2 separate regions of the Homo sapiens genome follow, and region 2 is linked to region 1. Evidence: fine-mapped expression QTL. A gene starts in region 1. The other region holds a variant in brackets. All regions are shown on one strand. Distances are from middle to middle.

Region 1 (5,388 bases):
AAACCCAGGCCCATTATGGAATTCTCCAGCTCCAATAATCAGCTCTACATTTTCTGTAGTACACAATTAAATAAATGTCACAGAGACTGGAAAGTTAAAGATAGAAAAGACTGAAGTATAATCAAGGGTCTGTCAAAGGCTGGCCTCACTTCTGGCTCTAGGACATAACATTAAGATACTTGGTTGCTGAAAACACTTCTCAACTTATTTTTGTTTCATGCACTACTGTGCTGAGCCAAAAGACACTACAAAGACTAAATAGCCTAGCTATTTTGTTTACTTTGGCAAATGGGATAACTGGTTTGCTAAAACCACCTCAAAGGTGATATGATTTTTCATAACACCATAATTAATTTAGAGACTAACATATTATATTCAATGCTTTCCATATAGTTAGGCATCCAAAAATGCTGTTTGAATGAAGGAATTAAAAACTTGAAAACACTGAATCCATTAACGTTACTAGGGAGGACAAAGGTCAGTAAAATTCCGTGGAAAAGGATAATTCCAAGGGCTACAATATTGTGCAAAGGTTCTAAACCACAACTAGTTCCACAATGCCGGTGGTATACAAGAGCATCTGTGCTACATCTGAATGCATACTTTATAGCACTGGCAAGGAATGCAAATGTGCATACCTCTTACCTAATCAAATGGTAACTTCTGGGTGTCCTAGTGCCCAGATAGGAAATTCTAGCATATTTGCTCCATACTCTTCTCCTTTTTAAACTGTTCTTAAAGGCATTTATCCAAAAAACTATATTAAGGTATTAATGGTAAAATTAGAAAGTCTTATTTGCTATGCATCAGTATAGTTTCTTATTACCTTGTCGTGGTATTGTATCTGTGACATCTCAATAAATTCTTAAGTTTCTGCACATCATATAAAAACAAAGTAAAGGGTCTCAGGGATTGTGAGCTCCCTGGGGATGGGAGTGTTGTTAGCAATAAACAAATACTCAATGAACATACTGACTTAATAGTCTGAGTCAGGTACTATTTTAATACTCTTTGTAACCATTTATAACATTTGATCCTCCTTGGCTGGCTTAGTAAATGTGTGTTAAAATGAACTAAAGCAGCACATGTATTAGCTAGATGGCTACAAAACCACTATATTATTTAACCAGGTTCTCTATTTGCAAAGTTCTCATACACTTTTAAAATACAGTCTATGCATTTATATCATTTGATATAGATTTCAATATAACAAAAAGCATGTCTATTCTTAAAGAGGGTCTTTTTTATTACTTGTATGGAAATGGGCCAAGGTTCTTGGACTCAAGAAAATTCCAGTATCTCTCCTTCACAGGAGACCAACAATAAATACCTGAGGGAATTATACCTAAAAATAATTTGAGTGCTGAACTGTGTTGTTCCACTATAGGAGTGGAAGTACAGTCAGCCATAACTCTAGCATTCCGTATGTGAAGATGAGGATAGGGTAAATTCTGAGACCCTAAACTTGTATTTTCTGTTTCCTCCAAATCTCTCTATGCCAGAAATCTATTTTCTTATGTCAACCATCAGCCCCACTACACTCCTCTTCAGTGGATTACAAAGTGGCTACAACTCACCAATTCAGTCCTGGTTCACTTATGACCATCTTGGAGCTCATCTTCCTAGATTTCTGCTTCACTCTAGCTCACAGTTCACAGCTGCCTGGCTGCGAAGGCTCCAAGAGGCAGGATCCCTCCAGAACTTACTCAGCTGAGTAAAAACAAAAGGCCAAGATCAAAAGCAAGTGATTGGCTAGGCCAGGTGCTATTAGGTGAGGAAGAATCTCTCCCTAAACATCTACCCTCAACAGACTGTGGCACCTAAAACAGAATACAGCAGACCCAAGGTTCTTTGTAGCAGAGCAGCAATGACGATACAGGACGAGCCCTTTTCCATTTAATCTACGCCGGGAGTGTTACTCTCAGGACACTCACTATGGAAATAAGAGCTGAAACAGAACGGTGTTCTCATTGCTTACATACTAGGCCACTTGATGGCATGGAACGGGAAGTCAACTCAGTTTTCCATTCCCTTACTGCCAAAATAAATCTTTTGTTTTCCCGACCATGCTTTGTTATGGGGCAGATTCTGGCAGGCACTTTATGACAAAAGCTACCTCGATATCAGGAATCTTAGGCCTTTCACAAAGAACCTCACATTTGAGAAGACTTGAGGTCAACTTAAGTGACATTTCACAAGATCACTTACAGACATCATCAGGACTACAAATCAGGCTTGATCTCTCATGTTCAGTACTTCTCCTGTGACCCCAGGCAGACTGATAAAGTGACCTGCGAGAACCTAATCAAATTTAGGAGTCGGTCTCTCGACACCGAACGGGCCCGACCGGCTCCCACTTAATCTACCTCTCACACTTCGACCCAGTGTGGAGCTGGGGGGGAATAGTCGAGGAAGGCAAAAGAAACGGCTGAGGGAAAGGGGACGCAAAGAGAGGGGAAACAAGGTTCCAGAAAAGCAGGTAAAAGGGCAAGCAAAGCAGGGGTAGGAGCCGCGCAGAGCCAGGAGCAAAGGGTCCTGGCCCGGCCGCCATGTTCCCTCCTCCCGCCCCTGCATGAGCACGCCCGCTGGCCCGGCAGCGCCCTCCCGTCCGCGTCTGGGCTGCAACACAGCCTTTCCGCCCACCTCATGGTCCGCGGCGGCTCTTGCCCAGGCCGCAGCCACACACCACACACGCTCCACCCCACTCCTCACATTGTCGCGCGCGCCCAAAAAAGACCATATTTAAAGGATGTGGCCGCGCCGACTCGGCCCTGCGTGATGACGTCTCAGCGACATAGTGGGCGGGGCCTTGCGTCTTGACGGCTGCTCCCCTCCTTTCCTCCCGCCACAAGCGCTCGCTGTGGTTCTGGCAGCGAAGTGCGAGACTGGGCTCGCCAGGCGGAAGTGGTTGGAGACTGCGTGTTTTCCTAGAAAGTCCTCGACCTTCGTCGGGGAGAGGAGGGGAGTGATAAATTGGAAGGCGGACAAGCGACAAGTGCGGTACTGGAAAGACCCAAACATACTTGGTTGTGACCTCAGGCAAGTTTCCTGACTTCCGTAACCCAAACTCCTCATATGTAAAATGGAGATGAAATTGTTACTGCTGCATCATACGGTTTTTTGGAAAGGATTAAATGAAACAAAGGAAGAAGCTGTGCTCTGCACAGTACCTGGCACATAGTAGGGCCTCATTAAGTGCTCCTTCACCTCCGCTCCACTCCCCATCCAGTTTTAGCTGTGAGTTCAAACACTAGTTTTGTTCTCATCCATTACGGAAAGATTTATTGACCGTAAACAGAGTACTTTGTGCTTGGTGCTGGGTACACATGGACTAAGACTGAATACTGATTTTTCCAGTGCTTTGGATCTCTGGCAATCTAAGACATTTACATTAAATACAATAGAAAGTAATAAACTACATAAGAAAGGTGTATAGATTGAGGTTAGAGGGAGAGGAATAGCTAGTGTGAGGGACAAAACGCAGTTTTGAATAGTATTGAGTACTTACATGTCAGTTGCTGCACTGAGCACCTGCCGTGTGAGCTCATTTGAAGAATGTGGGTATGTGGAATGAAGAGAAAGGGCGTTCTAGACAGACCAGCACAAGTGTCAAAAGACAAAAATTTGACACATCTAAAGATCTCAGTTGGCCTTATTGCGATTCTGGAATCAGGCAACACTTCATTCCATAAAATGGAATGAGTGTCCCAATGAGTGGAACAGAGGAGGTTGGCATTACGGACAGAAAAAAGGTCTGTAGAAAGTAGAAACAAAGAACAAAAAGCAGATTGATCATTTCAAAGTTACTTTCCTGGTAAGGTGGAGACAGACAGTACAATAGAAAGATAACTGATTGGTTAACATCAGGTTACTTCAAGTTACTCTTTGCTGTAGGGACTAAAACAGAGGAAATTCATTATCTTGCTGATTGAAAATTGAAACTGGCCTGTTACCTCTGTCTCCTGATTTCTTGGAGGGCCACATAACTCAGTTTCGGTGTGGTGAGCCTGAGTGATACCATTTTTATTTTAGTCTGGTCTCTTGGGGTCTAGTGCAGAAGTTCTAAACAATGGCCTCCTATAATTTTTTTTAATACAAGGAACTGCATAAACTTATTGCATAAACAGAATCTAGTGTGTGCTATTAGGGAAGCATGTTCTACATTTTATTTTAAGACAGAGTCTCCCAGACTGGAGTGCAGTGGTGTGATCTCAGCTCACTGCAACTTCTGCCACCTGGGTTCAAGCGATTCTCCTGCGTCAGTCTCCCTAGTAGCTGGGACTACAAGTGCATGCCACCACACTTGGCTAATTTTTGTATTTTTTTTTTAGTAGAGATGGGGTTTGCCAGGGTGATCTTTAACTCTTGACCTCAAGTGATCTGCCCACCTTGGCCTCCCTAAGTGCTGGGATTACAGGTGTGAGCCACTACCCCTGGCTGACATTTTAGACTGATTTAGAATATTGTTAGAAATTATGTTAATGTAAAAAATATGCTACAGGAAACCATAGGTAGTTTATTTTGCCTGGAATGCAAGGTCTCTGAAGAGTAGTAGAGGAAAAGGGGTTGGAAAAACTGGTTGAAGCTAGAACACGTAAGATTTTATAAGCCAGACTAAGGAAGTTTGACTTTATTGCATAAGAAATAAAATGCTAGGAAACAAACAAACAAAAAAGCTTACATAATGACACAATCAGAACTGGCTGGCTGTGCTTCAGGAAAGTTCACCTGGCAACCTACGGAATTCATTGAAGGGAGGAGGCCAGTTAGGAGACAGTGTTTGTGAATGCTTAAAAAAATCAACCACTACAATGCCTGGCACTGTGCAGATAGCATTTCTTTTTTTCTTTTTCTTTTTTCTTTTCTTTTCTTTTTTTTTTTTTTTTTGAGATGGAGTCTCCCTCTGTCGCCCAGGCTGGAGTATAGTGGGGCGATCTTGGCTCACTGCAACCTCTGCCTCTCGGGTTCAAGCGATTCTCCTGCCTCAGCCTCCTGAGTAGCTGGGATAACAGGTGCATACCACCACGCCCGGCTAATTTTTGTATTTTTAGTAGAGACAGGGTTTCACCATGTTGGTTAGGCTGGTCTTGAACTCCTGATCTCGTGATCCGCCCACCTCGGCCTCCCAAAATGCTGGGATTACAGGCGTGAGCCACCATGCCTGGCTGCAGATAGTATTTCTTATTAGGTAAGTGATGTGGATGGCTTGTGTAGGACAAAGGCAGCGTAAAAGTTCATGTGTTGGGTACTGTCTCACAAAGCATGCAGTCAGGAAGAGTTGGGGACACCTGACCTGGCCTGAAGGAACTGCTCTAATTGTTTAAGAGCTCATGCTGCTGGGAGGTACCTGCCCATGGTAGTGTGATATGGTAGCATTACCATACAGCT
Region 2 (5,388 bases), 58 kb before region 1:
GCAATGTTAAAGCCTGGCTAGAGCAGATGTTGCATTAATGGCAGTGCTTGGAAGGGACCGGATACTCATGTTTATCAATGTGGCTTTGCCCTACTGGCATATGTCTGTTAGGATTATGTGTAAATACTCTCCAGTGCTGTATATTATTATTTTTTGAGACGGAGTCTCACTCTGTCGCCCAGGCTGGAGTGCAGTGGCACAATCTCGGCTCACTGCAAGCTCCGCCTCCCGGGTTCACACCATTCTCCTGCCTCAGCCTCCCGAGTAGCTGGGACTACAGAAGCCCACCACCACACCCGGCTAAGTTTCTGTATTTTCAGTAGAGATGGGGTTTCACCGTGTTAGCCAGGATGGTCTCGATCTCCTGATGTCATGATCCACCCACCTCGGCCTCCCAAAGTGCTGGGATTACAGGCGTGAGCCACCGCACCCGGCCTCCAGTGCTGTATATTTCTAAATAAGCAAAATCTAGGATAGGGAGAATAGAAAATATTCCTTCTCCCCACACCCAAAAGAAACAGATTTTGAAGAAAAGGGAAGAAAGTCAACCCACTAATCACAGAATCTTTATAAGGGTTCTTCACTTTCAAAACAGCAATAAATTTATACTCAGGCTTCCCTCCTACTTTCTTAAAGAATCAACCAGGCTATAGCTCATATATTGAAAGCAAACACATCTGCCAAGGCAAACTCTTGACTGTTTAAATCTGTTTGATGAAGTAAGTAATCTAGAGATCCACCATCTTAGAAACACAGGTCTGGTTCTTGACTCTTTTCAGTAATTTTTGCCTGGCAGGGCAGATCCAAATCCCAGATAGATGCCTTGTAAATGTGTCTGCCATTATATACCTTGATAAGTAGACTGGACATGAGTGAAGGGGACATGGCAACAGTAGATGGATAAATGAAATGGATCCCCTTTATTTCTACATCTCAACAAGAAACTCAATAAATCTTAATATCAAATACGTTAAGGTTTGATTAAAAACTACTACATACCAAACAAAAAAACAGAACAAAACAAAATACTACTATATACCTATAATGCATAGAAAACGTCTTAACATCTTTACAACATGCCCATTAGGAACTACAGATGCAGTATGCTAATGAAAAGTTAAAGTTTTCTTTCCTCTCCCTCCCCTAAACCTGTTCATAGCATATGTGATTTAAAAATATGTTCACAAATTCTTTCCAAACTTCTCCCTTCAAGGGTGGAGCTTAAGTGTGGGCTTAGCGACTTACTAATCCTTCAGATGACTGCAGCCCTAGCCAAGAGCCTGACTGCAACTTCATGAGAGACCTGGACTTTTGACTTACAGAAACTGTGAGATAATGTTTGTTGTTTTAAGTAGCTAAGTTTTGGGATAATTTATTATTCAGCAAATTGGTTATAACCAATATAGCACACAAACCTAGAATCCAAAAGTAGAAATGACTAAAAAAAAAAATGAACATTTTAAATTAACTTTCTTCCCACTCTAACCACACTATTTTCTCAATGGGTTAACACCATCATTTACTCAGTATCTCAAATGAGAAACCCAGAAGCCATACTTTACTCTCCTTACCAACAACAAAACTGAGTTGTCATTTTTTTTTTTTTCCTTATACATCACTTGAGCCCACTCCTATTCTTGCTGCTTTAATTCTGGGCCATTGCCATTTTTCAGTTACTACAACACAGGCTCCCAACATTTCTTCTTTCGCTTCCCAGCTCCATCGCATTCTCTAGACTAATGCCAACAAGAGCCCTTTTCAAATACATATCTGATCATGTCAGTTAATTAACCTTCACTACTGGTTCCCACATTGCACAGGACAAAGTTCAAATGTCTTAGCACAGTGTTTCTGTCCCTATCCTGCAGTTTTCTCTCTCATCTCCCATGTTCATAGCCTATAATCTCTCCAACTTTCACCTTTTCATAGGCTGCTTAGTTTCACTTAGTTTCTTTGTGGAAGACCTTTAATTTTCCCTTATAAATCCTACTATTTTTAAAAGACTCAGCTCAAGTTCTATCTCAGAAAACCTTAACTACCAAGATCTGGTTAGATGACTTGCTTACTTTATCAAAGCACTTATCACATAAAGCAGTATAGTGTCTTCCACTAGAATGTGATCTCCTGAAAAAAAAAATCTTTGATACCTACACATTCATGCATCTAACTAATATCTGCTAAGCAACTACATGACAGGCACTGTATTAGGTGTTTATTACTTAATGGTGAACAAAACAAATATGCCCCTGTCCTTGCAGAGCTTGTAATCTATAAGAAAAGAAAATCAAAGAAACAAATAAATATGGTGAGATCTGAAAAAACAAGGCTATGAGAGAATAACTGTGGGGACCTACTTTGGAGTGCATGGCACATAGTTGCACTCACTTACTGAATTAAACTGTTTTCAAAGAGGTGTGTATAAATTACACCTTCACTGCTGAGGTATAAATGGGCCAGGGTGATCACATCCTTGCTAGCCCTAAGTCTGATTTAAAAAAAAAAAAAAAACTTGCTCATTTTTTGAGATAGGGTCTTGATCTCTCACCCAGGATGGAGTGCAGTGGCACCATCATAGCTCACTGCAGCCTCAAACTCCTAGACTCAAGCGATCCTCCCACCTCAGCTTCCCAAGTAGCTGGGATTACATCCTGCTAAACATATTGTCAGTTACTTCTTGGCTTATAAATTCTCAGTACTAAAAATCAAGAAAAAGAACATAAAGCATATCAAATGTATGTTAAAAAAGGAGGCTTCACTAAGCACAAGCAAAAAACTACCTTTATATATGATGTTATTCAAATACATGGATAAGATAACACATTTTATGATGTAAAAAGTAATATTTAAAAATTAAAAGGCAAGTCTTTCTGGTATTCAGAAGTCTGAAGCAACCACTGTCCAGCTCTTTAAAAAGAGCACATTCCATTCTGGTGCACACAAATGTACATTAAAAATAAAATAAAAAAGTGTAAGAGTACATTTCAAGGGAATCCCTGCCTCTCCCTTGGCTCGCTGGCAAATGATTCACAACCAAAACATTTCTGGGATATGTGACTTAAGGAATAAAAAAACTCAGTGTTTTATAAAAGGGAATGGCAGGATGAGGAAATGATTTATCAAGATACAATTTTACTAATAATTACTTCTCAAATAACTTAAAAATGTTTTATAACAAAAAATCAAAATGAAACAAAACTTGGTAGTTGAATATAAGTATTTTCAACTGTTACAATACTTGAGGAGATTTTTCGGTCTAATTTCTCAGAAATTAGGCCAAAAGAATAGCTATTCTTTACACAGAATAGCTAAAAAATTTCAA[T/C]GTGAAGCAATTATCTAGGATTACAAAACTTATATTTTACAAATGACATACATAATTTCTGAAAATTTTAGTGTAAGGGTTCTAAAGATTAAACAAGCCTGTCCTGTTTTTTTTTTTCTTTGAGACAGGGTCACACTCTGATACTCAAGCTGAGTTCTGTGGTGCGATCACAACTCACTGTAGCCTTGACTTCTTGGGCTCAAGCAATTCTTCTGCCTCAGCCTTTTGAGTAGCTGGGACTACAGGCACACCCCACCACACCCGGCTAACTTTTTTATTTGTAGAGATGAGGTCTGTGTTGCCCAGACTGGTCTCCAACCCCTGGACTCAAGTGATTCTCCCGCCTCGGCCTTGCGAAGTGCTGGAATTACAGGTGTGAGCCACCACGCCCGGCCCTGTCTGTAGTTTCTTAAGTCCAAATTTGCTACAGCAACATCAGTTGATTATGCCCTTTTCCAAATTCATCTGCAGGCCCGGAAAATTTAAATCAATCAGTATAGATGAGGATAAAAATAGCTTATGCTGGCCAGGCACGGTGGCTTACCCCTGTAATCCCAGCACTTTGGGAGGCCAAGGCAGGCGGATCACAAGGTCAGGAGTTTGAGACCAGCCCGGCCAACATGGTAACACCCTGTCTCTACTAAAAATACAAAAAAAAATTAGCCAAGCCTGGTGGTAGGTGCCTGTAGTCCCAGCTACTCGGGAGGATGAGGCAGGAGAATCGCTTTAATCCAGGAGGTGGATGTTGTGGTGAGCTGAGATCATGCCACTGCACTCCAGCCTGGGCAACAGAGCGAGACTCCATCTCAAAAAAAAAAAAAAGCTTATGCTTTACCACATTAACCTTGTCATCTGGAGCAATGACACTGACTTTTTTTCTGGAAAACATACCTATCTCTTTGCTTTCAGCAGTGTATTTCAACACTCAGCTTGAATCTAGAGATAGAGGCATCTGTCATCAAACATGTTATACCACCAAATTTTTTCTTTTATTAAACAAACTGATGGTTGCCAAACAAGAAGTCAGTAATCTGACTTTTCAGAGGCAGGGAGTTTTTATTTTTGGCTTCTGTAATGGAATTTCACCAAGTTTTTAAAGGTATTAACTTTATTAACCTGTAACATTCATCATTTTAAAGGAGTATATAAAAACTGTCAAAATGGGTCAGAAACAAAGTTTGCGATGCTCATAATCATCTTCAGCAGTGGCAACATTTAACTTTTTGAGTCAGTCGCAACAGACTGGCAATATAACTAACACAATACATAACGATAAGTGTTGTTCTTGATAAAAAACCAAATTATTTTTCTATTTACAATTTTTAGAAAAGGTTTAATGTAAAAATATTTTTCTTCTTTATATATTTCCCTGCCATGATAATGTTAAAACATATCAAGATCCTCCTCAAACTTCAAGGGTGAAAAGCATACCATTCCATTTTAGTTGAAATATTCCTTCACATAGCCAACACATTTTTTCAAGGCACTCTAGCTACTACAGGAAAAATGTTCCTCTTGCCTACTGATTATTTTCCCTCAAACTTATCTAAATTAAACACTGTTATAACTGTTTTTTTAAATTTAGTTTTCCATGGTACAGTCCTCAAGTTATTTTTCTTTTATGTGGAGCCACTCCTTCAGTTTCAACTTGCTGAGCAGGCAAGCAACTGCTTTTGGTTTCCATGGAAACTGGATTCCTGTGGCTGCGTGTAGGCATTCTCGTTCCACCAATCTAAGAGATGAAGCAGAGAACAGAATAGCTTAATGTATCTACAACATACCTATATACAGTCAACTCTGTAGTATTTATACATGTATTAACCACCTTGCAAATAAGCTCTTATATATTTTTCATCTCCAGCTAGCTGGCTGTTTCTAAACAAGTTTTAATCTGACACATTTTTAAGTACTAAACTTTCAAATAACCATCAGAGAAGTTGATAGATCTGAGTAGATGGGGAGCAAAGTGAATGGGGAAACTATTCTCTGTGTTAAATTTATTAGAGGTTGAAAAGATAAATTAGAAATCAAGGGAATGACAGGCCTTATGTGTGATGTGTTTGAAATAA

Evidence for each region. PIP is the estimated chance that this variant, and not a neighbour inherited with it, causes the effect.
Region 2: its variant is the best candidate, but not a certain one, in a credible set for the expression of ICE2 in whole blood (TOPMed, PIP 0.90).

Annotation. Positions count from the first base shown.
Region 1 is chr15:60,476,360-60,481,747 of GRCh38, forward strand. It overlaps ICE2 (interactor of little elongation complex ELL subunit 2), which reads right to left and starts at 2,783. Exons shown (of 16, transcript NM_024611.6): 1 at 2,644-2,783; 2 at 1,578-1,710. The coding sequence starts at 1,618. It overlaps RORA-AS1 (RORA antisense RNA 1), which reads left to right and starts at 2,819. Exons shown (of 6, transcript NR_120342.1): 1 at 2,819-3,039. RefSeq lists enhancers at 1,615-1,734, 2,057-2,584.
Region 2 is chr15:60,418,712-60,424,099 of GRCh38, forward strand. ICE2 (interactor of little elongation complex ELL subunit 2) reads right to left here. Exons shown (of 16, transcript NM_024611.6): 16 at 898-5,051. The coding sequence ends at 4,923. Among named protein-coding and RNA genes, the nearest start is that of ANXA2, 23 kb to the left of the region's middle. The variant T/C (reference allele first, on the strand shown) is at 3,320.